Homo sapiens: one gene and its partner. The protein of the gene in region 2 purifies or fractionates together with the protein of the main gene of each other region. This does not show direct contact. Each region holds a gene or a part of one and is shown on either strand. Other genes may lie near its edges.

What was found. Proteins that work in one complex are often made in the same cells at the same time.
Region 1: the proteins of TIMP2 (region 2) and ZMYM6 purify together in Homo sapiens (affinity purification with mass spectrometry; 3 studies listed by BioGRID and IntAct, with this or other methods). This does not show direct contact.

Annotation. Positions count from the first base shown.
Region 1 is NC_000001.11:35,014,939-35,021,965, reverse strand, and holds part of ZMYM6 (zinc finger MYM-type protein 6), read left to right. Parts: intron 1-1,498; coding exon 1,499-1,583; intron 1,584-2,363; coding exon 2,364-2,613; intron 2,614-6,803; coding exon 6,804-6,978; intron 6,979-7,027. UniProt on the Homo sapiens protein: Plays a role in the regulation of cell morphology and cytoskeletal organization.
Region 2 is NC_000017.11:78,866,374-78,873,400, forward strand, and holds part of TIMP2 (metalloproteinase inhibitor 2 precursor), read right to left. Parts: intron 4,634-7,027; coding exon 4,525-4,633; intron 1,858-4,524; exon of another isoform or gene 1,601-1,857; intron 1-1,600. UniProt on the Homo sapiens protein: Complexes with metalloproteinases (such as collagenases) and irreversibly inactivates them by binding to their catalytic zinc cofactor. Known to act on MMP-1, MMP-2, MMP-3, MMP-7, MMP-8, MMP-9, MMP-10, MMP-13, MMP-14, MMP-15, MMP-16 and MMP-19.

The DNA of each region.
Region 1 (7,027 bases), on a different chromosome or scaffold from region 2:
TGATTCAGAAAAGTAAGACTTTTTAAAAAACTTCCTGTTTTGAAATATGTAAGGGTATTTTAACATTAAAAAAAAGGATGGTTGCAATTTCAGAATAAAGATAGGCATTTACATTTTAAAAATGTTTCATGATTACATTTTGTTTTAAAACGTTTTAAAGAATGTGGTAAGAATAAATAGGATTTTGTCTGTGATGATTTTATGTATAATGAGCAGATTGCATTGACACTCTTGTATCTTTTCTGCCATTAACAGAAAAGGCAGCTTGTAAATCTAAAATGATTGAAATCCAAACTCTAAATCATTCAGATTTAACTTTTCTTTTTTTCTTTTTCTTTTTTTTTTTGAGGCAGAGGCTCGCTCTGTTGCCCAGGCTGGAGTGCAGTGGCACAATCTTGGCTTACTGCAGCCTCCTCCTCCCGGGTTCAAGTGATTCTCCTGCCTCAGCCTCCTGGGTAGCTGGGACTATAGGTGTGAGCCACCACGCCCAGCCAGATTTAATTTCATTTATTGCTCCTTTTTGCCGGGTGCAGTGGCTCACACCTGTAATCCCAGCACTTTGGGAGGCCAAAGTGGGCGGATCACCTGAGGTCAGGAGTTCCAGACCAGCCTGGCTAACATAGCAAAACCCCTTCTCTACTGGAAAAAAACACAAAAATTCGCCGGGTGTGGTAGCGCAAGCCTGTATTCCCAGCTACTTGGGAGGCTGAGGCAGGAGAATCGCTTGAACCTGGGTGTTGGAGGTTGCAGTAAGCCAAGATCACGCCATTGCACTCCAGCCTGGGTGACAGAATGAAACTCCAGCCTGGGTGACAGAATGAGACTCCATGTCAAAAAAAAAAAAAAATTTTTTTTTTCATTTATTACCCCCTTTTAAACACACTACCTAAAAAATAGGTAGTGCTCAGCATTTGGAATAGCTATGTATTACTCCCATATATCAAAATTTCATTTGAAAAGTAGATAAAAGTATTTTAAAAGATTCTCTAATTCTGAAAGATTGTCTTTGTAAAGATTAGTGTAATAACTTGTAAATTTTGACTTTTGAGGTGCTTGTGAAGGTATTTATGATTAGACTGTTTAAGAGATGAATAGGGCCGGGTGTGGTGGCTCACGCCTGTAATCCCAGCACTTTGGGAGGCTGAGGTGGGTAGATCACAAGGTCAGGAGTTCGAGACCAGCCTGGCCAATGTGGTGAAACCCTGTCTCTACTAAAAATACAAAAAATAGTTGGGTGTGGTAGCACATACCTGTAGTCCCAGCTACTCGGGTGGCTGAGGCAGAAGAATCGCTTGAACCTGGGAGGCAGAGGTTGCAACGAGCTGAGATCGCGCCACTGCACTTCAGCCTGGGCACCCAAGTGAGACTCCATCTCAAAAAAAAAAAAAAAAAAAAAAGGAGATGAATAGGATAGAATAATTTTTTTTTGCTTGAATTTCTAGTTTACTTACATACATTGTATTCATTGCTCTTTTCTCTTTTCTTTTTTTTTTTAAAGGAGTATGGATGTGTCCAACAGCCAAAAACTCAAGAAAGTAAATTGAAAATTGGTGGTGTGTCTTCAGTTAATGAGAGACCTATTGGTAAGAAATGGAACTGTATAAGTTAGTTACAATTAATTTGCTTATTCTGACTTTTAAAATTGAGGGAAAGCATCTTTTCATGTATGTCTTTCTCTTTCTTTAGAGCTGTGTTTTTTCAAACTGTGAGTAGCTGGTTTTCAGCAGCGTTTTAAAAAATAGAGTAAGATTATATCAGAATATGATATGTGTAGTAAGGAAACATATTGTTTCATAAAACTTCTGTTTCAGTGATTAAATTGTACATACATCCCCACGTTTACAAACATATGTATGTGAGAACTGGGTTATAATATTAAATGTATTTCTTGCGTTGAGTAATGGTTAAAAAAAAATTGAAACCTCTGTTTTAGAGCTCTTATTGCCTCATTAACTGGATTTCAAGATTGGGAATTTGTCCTGAAAAAGAGAGACTGGGCTGGGTTTAGTGGCTAACACCTGTAATCTCAGCAACTTGGGAGGCTGAGGCAGGAGGATCGCTTGAGCTCAGGTGTTTGAGACCAGTCTGGGCAACATACCTTATCTTTGCTAAAAATTAAAAAAAAATTAGCTGGGTGTGGTGGCATGTGCCTGTAGTCCTAGCTACTCAAGAGGCTGAGGCGGGAGGACTGGTTAATCCTGGGAGTTTGAGGCTTCAGTGAGCCTTGATTGCACCACTGCACTCCAGCCTGGGTGACAGTGAGACCGTGTCTCAGAAAAAGAAAAAAGAGAGAGAGAGAGAGAGACTGAGACTGTATATGCATTAGTATTGATACTAAAACTTTTTTTATTTTGTTTTGATAGCCCAGCAGTTGAACCCAGGCTTTCAGCTTTCTTTTGCATCATCTGGCCCAAGTGTGTTGCTTCCTTCAGTTCCAGCTGTTGCTATTAAGGTTTTTTGTTCTGGTTGTAAAAAAATGCTTTATAAGGGCCAAACTGCATATCATAAGACAGGATCTACTCAGCTCTTCTGCTCCACACGATGCATCACCAGACATTCTTCACCTGCCTGCCTGCCACCTCCTCCCAAGAAAACCTGCACAAACTGCTCGAAGTATAAAATTCTTAACATCCCTTTTTACTTTACCTTTTTTTTAGTGTGTATATTGTTTAGTTCAAACATACTGTTGATACTTTAAATCTCTTCAGCATGTATCTGTAGAAATAACTTTTTAGTTAATGGAAGAATTCACCAATTTTAAAGTTTTGCAACATTAAATAAGTGACTTGGTGTTAGAATATTGCCTAAACCAGTTTTCTATCACTTTAAATTTTACTATGGAAAGAAATAACAAATGACATGTGGGAATTGCAGGACTATCCTGTAATTGTAGACACCCACCATTTAAATTTATTTAACAGTTATCTTGAAAGCTATTGGGTATAGCATAAAATAATATCACTCTTTTAATAGTATACAAAAGCTATTTAATTCTTTAAAAAGTAAAAACTCTACATGGTCGCAAAAATGTGTTTATTTCTAATGTCCTTGTGGGGTCATTGTTGCTTTACAATAATGCTTAGATGCAGAGAGAGGAAAAAACAGCAACAAAGTCACATAAATCTTTCCCTGACTTAGTACATTTGAAGGATTTGGCATATTTTGCCTATTTCTGTGGTAGTGTAATTTGAGGAATACAGTGTGTTGTTAATAGTCACTACAGGCAAAAAACAGTAAGAGCTTGCTTTTAAATTGTGGCTCTGTCATTTATCTCTGTGACTTCGGGCTAGATGTTTAACTTTCTAAGCCTCCATTTCTCATCAGTAAATAATAGTTGCTTCCTAGGACTTTAATGAGACAGTGTTAGCAAATGGCCTAGCACATAGCAAGTACTTAAAAAATGGAATCCTGTTATTATTAATAATAAAAATTATATCGTGCGATTATTTATAATTAACATAAATAAATATAATAAATATATGTGTATATAATACATATTACTATGTATACTTAACATATCACTTGTAGGCCCCTATTTTGTCTTTGGCTGTGTTTATCTGCTTTGTGTCTTGACTTAAACTATTTAAAAGTAGATCCTGCTATATGGAAATTTCCAAGTAAAGAGGAGAGAGGATTTTTTTTTTTCTTTGTTGCCCATGGTAGAGTGATCACAGCTCACTGCAGCCTTGAACTCCCCGGGCTCAGATGATCCTCCCACCTCAGCCTTTCAAATAGCTGGGACCACAGGCGCATACCACCATGCCCGACTAATTTTTGTATTTTTTTGTAGAGATGGTTTTGCTATGTTGCCCAGGCTGGTCTCAAACTCCTGGGCTCAAGCAATTAGCCTGCCTCAGCCTCCTAAAGTGCTGGGACTATTGGTGTGAGCCATCACATGTGGCCAGGAGAGAGGAATTTTAAAATATTTATATACTCTAAATTAGTTTGTTGCAAAATACCATTCTAATTAATGCTTTTATGTCATTCTCATGAAACTAATCTGAAAGAGTAAACTTAGTTTTCTATTTTTAGATATTGTTTCAACATACCAAATACCAAAATAAAATTAAATAATTTTAAAGAACATAACACAACTTATACATCCAAATGCCTATTGTTTTCTTAAAAGTAGTCACCCCCGTCAGTGACTTTTTAGCATAAGGTTAGGAGACAGATTCTTATCTTTTCAGCATGCATTTGATTTTTACAAATTTTCAAAGGCTGCTTGATACCTTAATCAGGCCAATATATTAGCTAATTAAATTAAGTCATACTGTTAAAACATGATATTTATAAAATTAAAAGTTAAAAAATAGTCTAAGGGTTTATCTTAAGTTTTATCTTAAAAAAATTAGAAAAATGTTTTGAGCTATGTTATTGTTGGAAGGTGTGGTTTTTCTACGGTAAATGTTACGATATAACACTCATTTGCATGTGTAAGGTTCAGAGTACACTTATAATTTATGTGCACAGATTTTCATTATAAAGTCATTCTCTTTGATTTACATATTTTTACTTGCTATTTTTGTACTTATTATGCCACTGGCAGATTCACCTTATTAAGTGAAACTCTTTATTGCTCTGTTTTCAGTAGAAAAATCACTTTTCAAAATTAATACTTCATCTGTGTATAAGCATATTCTTTTGGTTTCTAAGATTTGCTGTCATATTTTTAAAGTTGAGTTTTAAAGAATTAAAATAATTTTTGTTGTTGTTATTTTCTCATGGTTTACCATTGAATATACCTGTATAATAAAGGTGCAGGATGGGAGGCAGGATAGTGGAATAATTAATTCCATAGACTAGAATCAGATTGCCTGGATTAGTATTTCAGCTTTATTGCCTACTAGCAATATGACTTTGACAAGCTATTTAACCTCTCATTCAGTTTCCTCATCTGTAAAGTGGCAGTTACAGTAATACTTAACCTTATAGTGGTTTGGGGATTTTTTTTTTTTTTTGAGACACGGTCTCACTCTGTCACCCAGGCTGGAGTGCAGTGGCGTGATCCCAGCTCACTGCAGCCTCTACCTCCCGGGCTCAAGCAATCCTCCCACCTCAGCATCCTGAGTAACTGAGACCATGGGCATGAGCCAGCATGCCCTGCTAATTAAAAAATTTTTTTTATAGAGATCGGGTCTTGCTCTGTTGCCCAGGCTGGAGTGCAGTGGCATGATCATGGCTCACTGGAGTCTTGAACTCCCTGGGCTCAAGCAATCCTTCTGCCTTGGCCTTCCAAAGTGCTAGGATTATGGGGGTGAGCCACTGCACTCCATCATTTTTGTGGTATTTAAATTGGGTAATTTGAGTAAAGAGAATAATGCTTGGCACATAGTAATTACTCAACACACTTATTGTAGTATATATTATTGCCATTATTATTTACTTTGTGGCCTGCACTAGTGTTTATAATTAGTGACTATTTCCTTTAGTTTTTATACTTGTCAGAAGAATGGCAATACTTAACCTCTGTTTTACCAGGGTATTGCTATTTGTGCTTATTGCAATAATTAGCTCTTACAAATTGGCTCTAGGAGTCTCACAGAACCACCCAATTATTTTTGTTCTTCCTGTCTCGTTCTTGTTTCCATCTGTCCTCTGATACAAAGCCTTAACAGCCCTTTTGTCATATATCATGCTTATTTTTTGTCTTCTGTTAGCTCATTTGTTTCTCAAAATCTTGCACTTTTAATTTTTAAACATTCATTTATTGTCTTGGCTGGACACGGTGGCTTATGCCTGTAATCCCAACACTTTGGGAGGCTGACGCAGGCGGATCGCGAGGTCAGGAATTTGAGACCAGCGTGGCCAATATGGCGAAACCCCGTCTGTACTAAAAATACAAAAATTAGCCTGGCATGGTGGCACGTGCTGGTGTCCCAGCTACTCGAACCGGAGGCTGAGACAGGAGGATCGCTTGAACCCAGGAGGTGGAGATTGCAGTGAGCCGAGATCGTGACACTGCACTCCAGCCTGGGCAGCAGAGCGAGACTCCGTCTCACAAAAAAAAAAAAAAAAAAGAAAGAAAAAATTCATTTATTGTCTCATTTCAGTTCTACTTTGGGCAGCCTCTGGCTAATGAGAGAACCAGTGTCTTGTGGTCTGGAGTTGTGGGATGGACACTGGTCCCATTGGCTATAGCAGATGAAACTTGGTTGGGGCTGGAAGCCTTCCTATTTTTGTCTTCAGCATCTGGCTGGCCACATATATATATATATATATTTTTTTTTTTTTTTTTTTTTGAGATGGAGTCTAGCTCTGTTGCCAAGGCTGGGGTGCAGTGGCACAATCTCGGCTCACTGCAACCTCCACCTCCCGGGTTCAAGTGATTCTCCTGCCTCAGCCTCCCGAGTAGCTGGGATTACAGGCGCCCACCACCACGCCCATCTAGTTTTTGTATTTTTAGTAGAGACGAGGTTTCACCATGTTGGCCAGGCTGGTCTCGAACTCCTGACCTCATGATCCGCCCACCTCGGCCTCCCAAAGTGATGGGATTACATGCATGAACCACCGCACCTGGCCCTGGCTGGCTATATTTTAAATATAATTCACTCTTGACAAATTTATGAATTAGATATTATAAGCCCCATTTTATACATGAAGAAATTGAGATAGTAATTACATCATTCATTGTCACTCACCTGATAAATAGCAGAACTCATCAAACCCAGGTTTGCAGATTCCTTATCCTTTTTCTACCATACAGTACCTGCCCTTAGTAAGTGTTATTTCACCTCACAAAGAGGAGGAAGTTACAGTTGTGAAGAATACATTTCATTTTTACCTTTGTTATTTATTTTTAGAGACATTTTAAATCCTAAGGATGTGATCACAACTCGCTTTGAGAATTCCTATCCTAGCAAAGATTTCTGCAGCCAATCATGCTTGTCATCTTATGAGCTAAAGAAAAAACCTGTTGTTACCATATATACCAAAAGCATTTCAACTAAGTGCAGTATGTGTCAGAAGAATGCTGATGTAAGTTACATTTTACTTTTATTGGGATTCTGCTGAAAGAGATTTTTTT
Region 2 (7,027 bases):
TACCCTTCTCCATTTGATTTTTTTTTTCTTATTGTAAAAATCATAGATAATACTGGGCGTGTAAAATGGTGCAGCTGCTTTGGAAAACGGTCTGCCAGCTCCTCAAATGGTTAAACCTAAAGTCACCCAACCCCTCCCCACCCCCGACCCCACCAATTCCACTGCCAGGGATACACCCAGGAAAAATGAGAACAGGTCCCTGCAAAATCTCACACACCAATGTTCATTGCAGTATTTGTCACAATGGCCAAACGGTGGCAACAACCCAAATGCACATCAAATGATGACCGGATAAACAAAACGTGGTCTATCCATACAGTGGAATACTCAGTCATAGAAAGGAATGAAATTCTGATACACACTGTAACATGGATGACCCTTGGAAACACGAAAGAAGCCGGTTACACAGGGTCACACGTATGATTCCGTTCCCAGGAAAGCCCAGCATAGAGAAATCTATAGAGACGGGAAGTATACCAGTGGCTGCTTAGGGCTGGGGGAGGGGGAGGGGAGTCAGGAGGGTAATAGCTCAAGAATACAGGATTTCTTTTTGACTGTAGTGATGGTTGCAGAACTCTGTGACATACTAAAACCACTGAATTGTAGGCCGGGCGCGGTGGCTCACGCCTGTAATCCCAGCACTTTGGAAGGCCTAGGCGGGCAGATCACCTGAAGTCAGGAGTTCAAGACCAGCCTGGCCAACATGGTGAAACCCCGTATCTACTAAAAATACAAAAATTAGCCAGGTATGGGGGCACACATCTGTAATCCCAGCTACTTGGGTGGCTGAGGCACGAGAATTGCCCAGGAGGCAGAGGTTGCTGTGAGCCAAGATCACACCACTGCATTCCAGCCTGGGCAACAGAGGGAGACTCTGTCTTGGAATGAGAATAAGAAAAGTGCTCATAATAAAACATTTTAGGAAGTCCAGAAATGCATCTTAAAAGGGGGGGAAGTCTCCTATTATCCCCAAGGAGAGGGATAGAAGTCTTGATGACCGAGATACCCAGCAAAGCAGGAGCTGTGAGCATGTTAAGGAAGGGAGGGAAGATCTTACCCAAGGGGAGATAACAGGAGTCTTCCCTGCCCAACTCACAGCCCTGCATCTTCCTCCCTGCAATGACCTCCTCCCCATCCATAGGCAAGGACACCACCTTCTTCCAGCAGCAAGTCTGTCTAGACCCTTGGACCTGTGAGAGTCTCTCTTCCTTTTGTACCTTCTTTTTTTTTTTTTTTTTTTGAGATGGAGTCTCACTCTGTCGCCCAGACTGGAGTGCAGTGGCACGATCTCGGCTCACTACAAGTTCCGCCTCCCGGGTTCACGCCATTCTCCTGCCTCAGCCTCTTGAGTAGCTGGGACTACAGGCGCCCGCCACCACGCCCGGCTAATTTTTTTTTTGTATTTTCAGTGGAAACGGGGTTTCACTGTGTTAGCCAGGATGGTCTCAATCTCCTGACCTCATGATCTGCCCGTCTCGGCCTCCCAAAGTGCTAGGATTACAGGCGTGAGCCACCTCGCCCGGCCCCTTTTGCACCTTCTAAGCATTCACTTACTATTCACAATTCTCCACAAGCAAAATCTATTTTCTTTCTTTTCCAGTCTCCCCATTCGGAACATCTGTGTGCTCCATGATGACCAGAGCCAAGGATCTCACCGTGGGAATCTCCCATTGTCTCTAACACGGGGCTGGGCACCTAACAGGTGCTCACTAAGCACACATTGATTTTTAGAAGGGAAAAAAGTACATGTCACCTAAACCAGAAGAAAATCCCCCAATCATGGATATTTGGATTTGGAGTATATGTTTATGATTACAGTTGCCTTTTGGAACAAACTATAGTACCAGGCTAGGGGAATTGTCTTGTCTCTTCTTTCTTTTCTCTTTTTTTTTTGTGAGATGGGGTCTTGCTCAGTCACCCAGGCTGGAGTACAGTGGCGTGATCTCAGCTTGCTGCAATCTCTGCCTCCTGGGTTCAAATGATTCTCATGCCTCAGCCTCCTGAGTAGCTGGGACTACAGGCACTTGCCACCACGCCCAGCTAATTTTTGTATTTTTAGTACAGACAGGGTTTTACCATGTTGGCAAGGCTGGTCTTGAACTCCTGACCTCAAGCAATCCGCCCGCCTCAGCCTCCTACATTGCTGGGATTACAGCCATGAGCCACTGCACCAGGCCTTGTCTATTCTTTTTTTCTTAAGTTTGTGATCAGATTCCTACTTCCCCAGGGAGGAGGGGAATAATGTTCCTTAACTGGCTGAGTCAGTGCCATGCTAGACTGCGGCTGCCGGCCACATGTGGCTGTTTACATTTATACTAAAATTACTTGAAATGAAATAAAATTTAAAATGCAGCTCCTCGGCTGCACTAGCCATATCTCGGGTGCTCATGAGCCACAAGGCTGGGGGCTGCTGGACTGGATGGTGCAGAGACCGCTTCCATCACTGCAGAAAGCTCTTTGAGCCCAGTGGTTCTCAAGCAGGGGCAATCTACCCCACCTCCCCTGGGCACATGTGGCAATGTCCAGAGACCCCGCGACTGGAGCGGGTGCTGTGGCATGTAGAGGGTGGGGGCCAGGGATGCAGCTGAATATCCTATAATGCATAAGGTAGGCCCCCACAACAAAGAATGGTCCATCCCCAAATGTTAATAGTGCTGAGATTGAGAATCCTGTCCTGGCCTCCTGTGGTTCAGCCTAGCTGGGCAAGCAGAGGAGGCCGTAGAAGGAAGTAAGGGAAAATAATTTTACTTAGGAATAAAAATATAGGCTGGGCACAGTGGCTCACGCCTATAATCCCAGTACTTTGGGAGGCTGAGGCAGGAGGATTGCTTGAGCCTCGGAGTTCAAGACCAGCCTGGGCAACATGGTGAGACTTCTTTACCAAAAAATAAAAAAATTAGCTGGGTGTGGTGGCACACACCTGTAGTTGATCTCAGCACTTTGGGAGGCTGAGGCGAGAGGATCACTTGACCCCAGGAGATCGAGGTTGCAGTGAGTCATGATCGCACTCCAGCCTGGGAAACAGAGCAAGACTTTGTCTCAAAAAAAAAAAAAACAAACCAAAAAACTATAAACAAAGAGATGCAACAATAAACAAAATGTGCTACATTCATACAATGAAATATTATTCATCCTTAAAAAGTAAGGACATTTTGGGCCGGGTGTGGTGGCTCACGCCTGTAATCCCAACACTTTGGGAGGCTGAGGTGGGCGGATCACCTGAGGTCAGAAGTTGGAGACCAGCCTGGTCAACGTGGTGAAACCCTGTCTGTACTAAAAATACAAAAAAAAATTAGCCAGGTGTGGTGGCGTGTGCCTATAATCCCAGCTACTTGAGAGGCTGAGGCAGGAGAATCGCTTGAACCTGGGAAGCGGAGGTTGCAGTGAGCCGAGATAGTGCCATTGCACCCCAGCCTGGGAAATAGAGCGAGACTCTGTCTCAAAAACAAAAAAAAGAGTAAGGAAATTCTGATGTATGCTGTAACGTGAACGAACCTTGAAAACATGATGCTACTGAAATAAGCCAGACAGAGAGGACAAACACTGCAGGGTTCCACCCATGTGAGGCCCCTGGAGTAGTCAAATCCACAGAGACAGAAAGTAAAATGGAGGTGGGCCAAGGCTGAGGAAGAGAGAAGGGGGAGTTAGTGTTTAACGGGGACGGAGTTTTGGTTTGGGAAGATGTGGAGACAGATGGTGGTGATGGTTGCACAATAGCGAATGTATCTAATGCCACTGAAGTGTACACTTGAAAATGGTTGGCCGGGCGCGGTGGCTCGCGCCTGTAATCCTGCCACTTTGGGAGGCCGAGGTGGGTGGATCACCTGAGGTCAGGAGTTCGAGACCAGCCTGACCAACACGGTAGAACCCCATCTCTACTAAAAATACAAAAATTAGCTGGGCGTGGTGGCGTGTGCCTGTAATCCCAACTACTCGGGAGGCTGAGGCAGGAGAATCGCTTGAACCCAGGAGGTGGAGGTTGCAGTAAGCCAAGATCGCACCACTGCACTCCAGCCTGGGCGACAGAGCGACACTCTGTCTCAAAAAAAAAGAAAGAAAGAAAGAAAGAAAGAAAGAAAATGGTTAATTAACATGGCTACATTTTGTTACGTATTATTTTACCACAATAAAAAAAGGAGACAGATGAATGAATAAGTCAAGCAGGTCTCGTGCATAGTATCCACAGATGTTACGCGAGCTTTTGGCCCTCCCGACGGCAGAAAGGGTTTCTCTGCCCTGCATGTCTCCAGCATCCCGCACTCGCCTCCCTTTTAGGAACAAAAGGCAAAAATGCTCCCTTTTTTTTGTCCACCAATCTCAAATTTCCCAGGAAATTGGCAGGTAGTGAACATTCACTAGCATTCTCTGACGGGAAGTGGCCGAGAGGGCTCCGTACCCTGCCTCACTGTTCCTCAGCTACTCCGCCTCCCCACCCCCCGAGCCTGGGAAACGAGCCCTGGACCGCGTCTAGGAACAGCCCCACTTCTGTGCCAGCCTCCGGCTGATGGCCCCACTCATACACACCTGCAATGAGATATTCCTTCTTTCCTCCAACGTCCAGCGAGACCCCACACACTGCCGAGGAGGGGGCCGTGTAGATAAACTCTATATCCTTCTCAGGCCCTTTGAACATCTGGAAAGACAAGGAGGAGGACATGTAAGCAGAGGGAGGCCACACAGTTGGTGAATTCCGTTCCCATCCAGAACACCCTGGGCGGCACAACCTGTAGCTGGGGTACAGCCAGCACCCAAGAGGACCAGGAAGTGCAAATACATGGGTTAGGAAAAGACCGTTCCAGCTGGGCTCAGGGCTCATGGCTGTAGTCCCAGCACTTTGGGAGGCTGAGGTGGGCAGGTCGCTTGAGGTCAGGAGTTTGAGACCAGCCTGGCCAACGTAGCAAAACCCTGTTTCTACTAAAAATACAAAAATTAGCTGAGCATGGTGGCAAGCGCCTGTAATCCCAGCTATGTGGGAGGCTGAGGCAGGAGAATCGCTTGAACCTGCGAGGTGGAGGTTGCAGTGAGCTGAGATGGCGCCACTGTACTCCTACCTGTATGACAGAGTAAGACTCCGTCAAAAAAAAAAAAAAAAAAAAAGAAAAGAAAAAGACTTCTTATAGCAAAGTGATTCTTTGGAGTCACTCAACTTTTAGTGTGGCAGATCACAGCAGGTGAGCACAAGACTCATCTGTGCCGGGCGAAGTGGCTCACACCAGTAATCCCAGCACTTTGGGAGGCCGAGGCAGGCAGATCACGAGGTCAGAAGATCGACACCATCCTGGCTAACATGGTGAAACCCTGTCTCTACTAAAAATACAGAAATTTAGCTGGGCGTGGTGGCGGGCGCCTGTAGTCCCAGCTACTCGGGAGGCTGAGGCAGGAGAATGGCGTGAACCCAGGAGGCGGAGCTTGCAGTGAGCCATGATCGTGCCACTGCGCTCCAGCCTGGGAGACAGCAAGACTCCATCTCAAAAAAAAAAAAAAAGACTGTCATCTGGAGCATGACATCCTCAGACAACACCTCTGTTCCCTCACCCCCCACCCCAAAGAGGTCATTTCTGAATCTATGGGGAGGGGCTTTTGTACCTCCACGTGACTCTGGACCACCATGAAGGACCATGACTTTTGCATATTTCCAGGAATTTTTTATTTTTTTGAGATAGGGTCTCACTCTGTTGCTCAGGCTGGGGCTGCAACCTCAACTTCCCAGGCTCAAGTGATCCTCCCACCTCAGCCTCCCGAGTAGCTGGGACTATAGGCGCATGCCACCATGCTTGGCTTTTTTTTTTTTTTAATTAGCAGAGACGAGGTCTCGCTCTATTACCCAGGCTGGTCTCAAACTCCTGAGCTCAAGCAATCCTCCTGCCTCGGCCTCCCAAAGTTCTGGGATTACAGGCATAAGTCACTCCACCCAACCTATATTTCCAGGAATTTTGGTCAAATATTGTCTACTTGATGGCAATGAGAGCAGAGAGGCACCTCAGGAATTAGGACATAACTCCATGGGCCAGAAGAGTTTGCTTTCTCAACATGTGATTTACTCACAGCCTTTCAGGAACGCACCTGCTGCCCAGGTGAAGAATGGCATTTTCTCAGCACTCAGGGAGGCTGTTTTTTTCCCCCCGAAGAGTTTCAATAAGCAAACCCAAATGGAATGGAAGCATGCCTGATGTCATGACAAATGGCTTGAGAGTGACACTCCAGCTTGTACCAGGAAAGGTTATGTTGATGCTGTACTAAATGACATCATTTGCCAAAAGGCTAAAAGCATTTCCTGGGCACTGGCACTGGCCTTTTCACGACCCCTTTATGAGGTCGTAAGAGCAGATCCTCTTTCCTGCTTCGTAAAGAAAGAGACTCAGGCACTGAGAGACTAGGTCATCCCCTTAAACTGACATACATGTGATGATGAAGCATTCCACTGACCTTCTGATAACATTGATTTTCAGCTACTTTTTTTTTTTTCTTTTTTTGAGATGGAGTTTCGCTCTTGTCGCACAGGCTGGAATGCAGTGGTGCAATCTCAGCTCACGGCAACCTCTGCCTCCCAGGTTTAAGTGTTCTCCTGCCTCAGCCTCCCAAGTAGCTGGGATCACAGGCACTCGCCACCACGCCCAGCTAATTTTTGTATTTTTAGTAGATACATGGGGTTTCTCCATGTTGGCCAGGCTGGTCTTGAACTCCTGACTTCAGGTGATCCACTCACCTGGGACTATACTCATGAGACACTGTGCCTGGTTTACTTTTTATTTTTAATGACAAAATTAAATATCGATGACTACAACTACCACCATATCACACGGCTGTCCCTCCACCTGCGACATGAATTTTCGTCTCTCTTACAGACCATGTTAGTTACTGTCAATGACAATAGCATCACCTCTCCTGCCCCAGGCCAGGCCCTGCCCTCCCTGCCCTCCCTGCCACATATTTTTTTTTTTTTTTTTTAATACAAGCTCTCACTCTGTCACCCAGGCTGGAATACAGTGGTGAGATGTCTCACTGCAACCTCTGCCTCCTGGGCTTA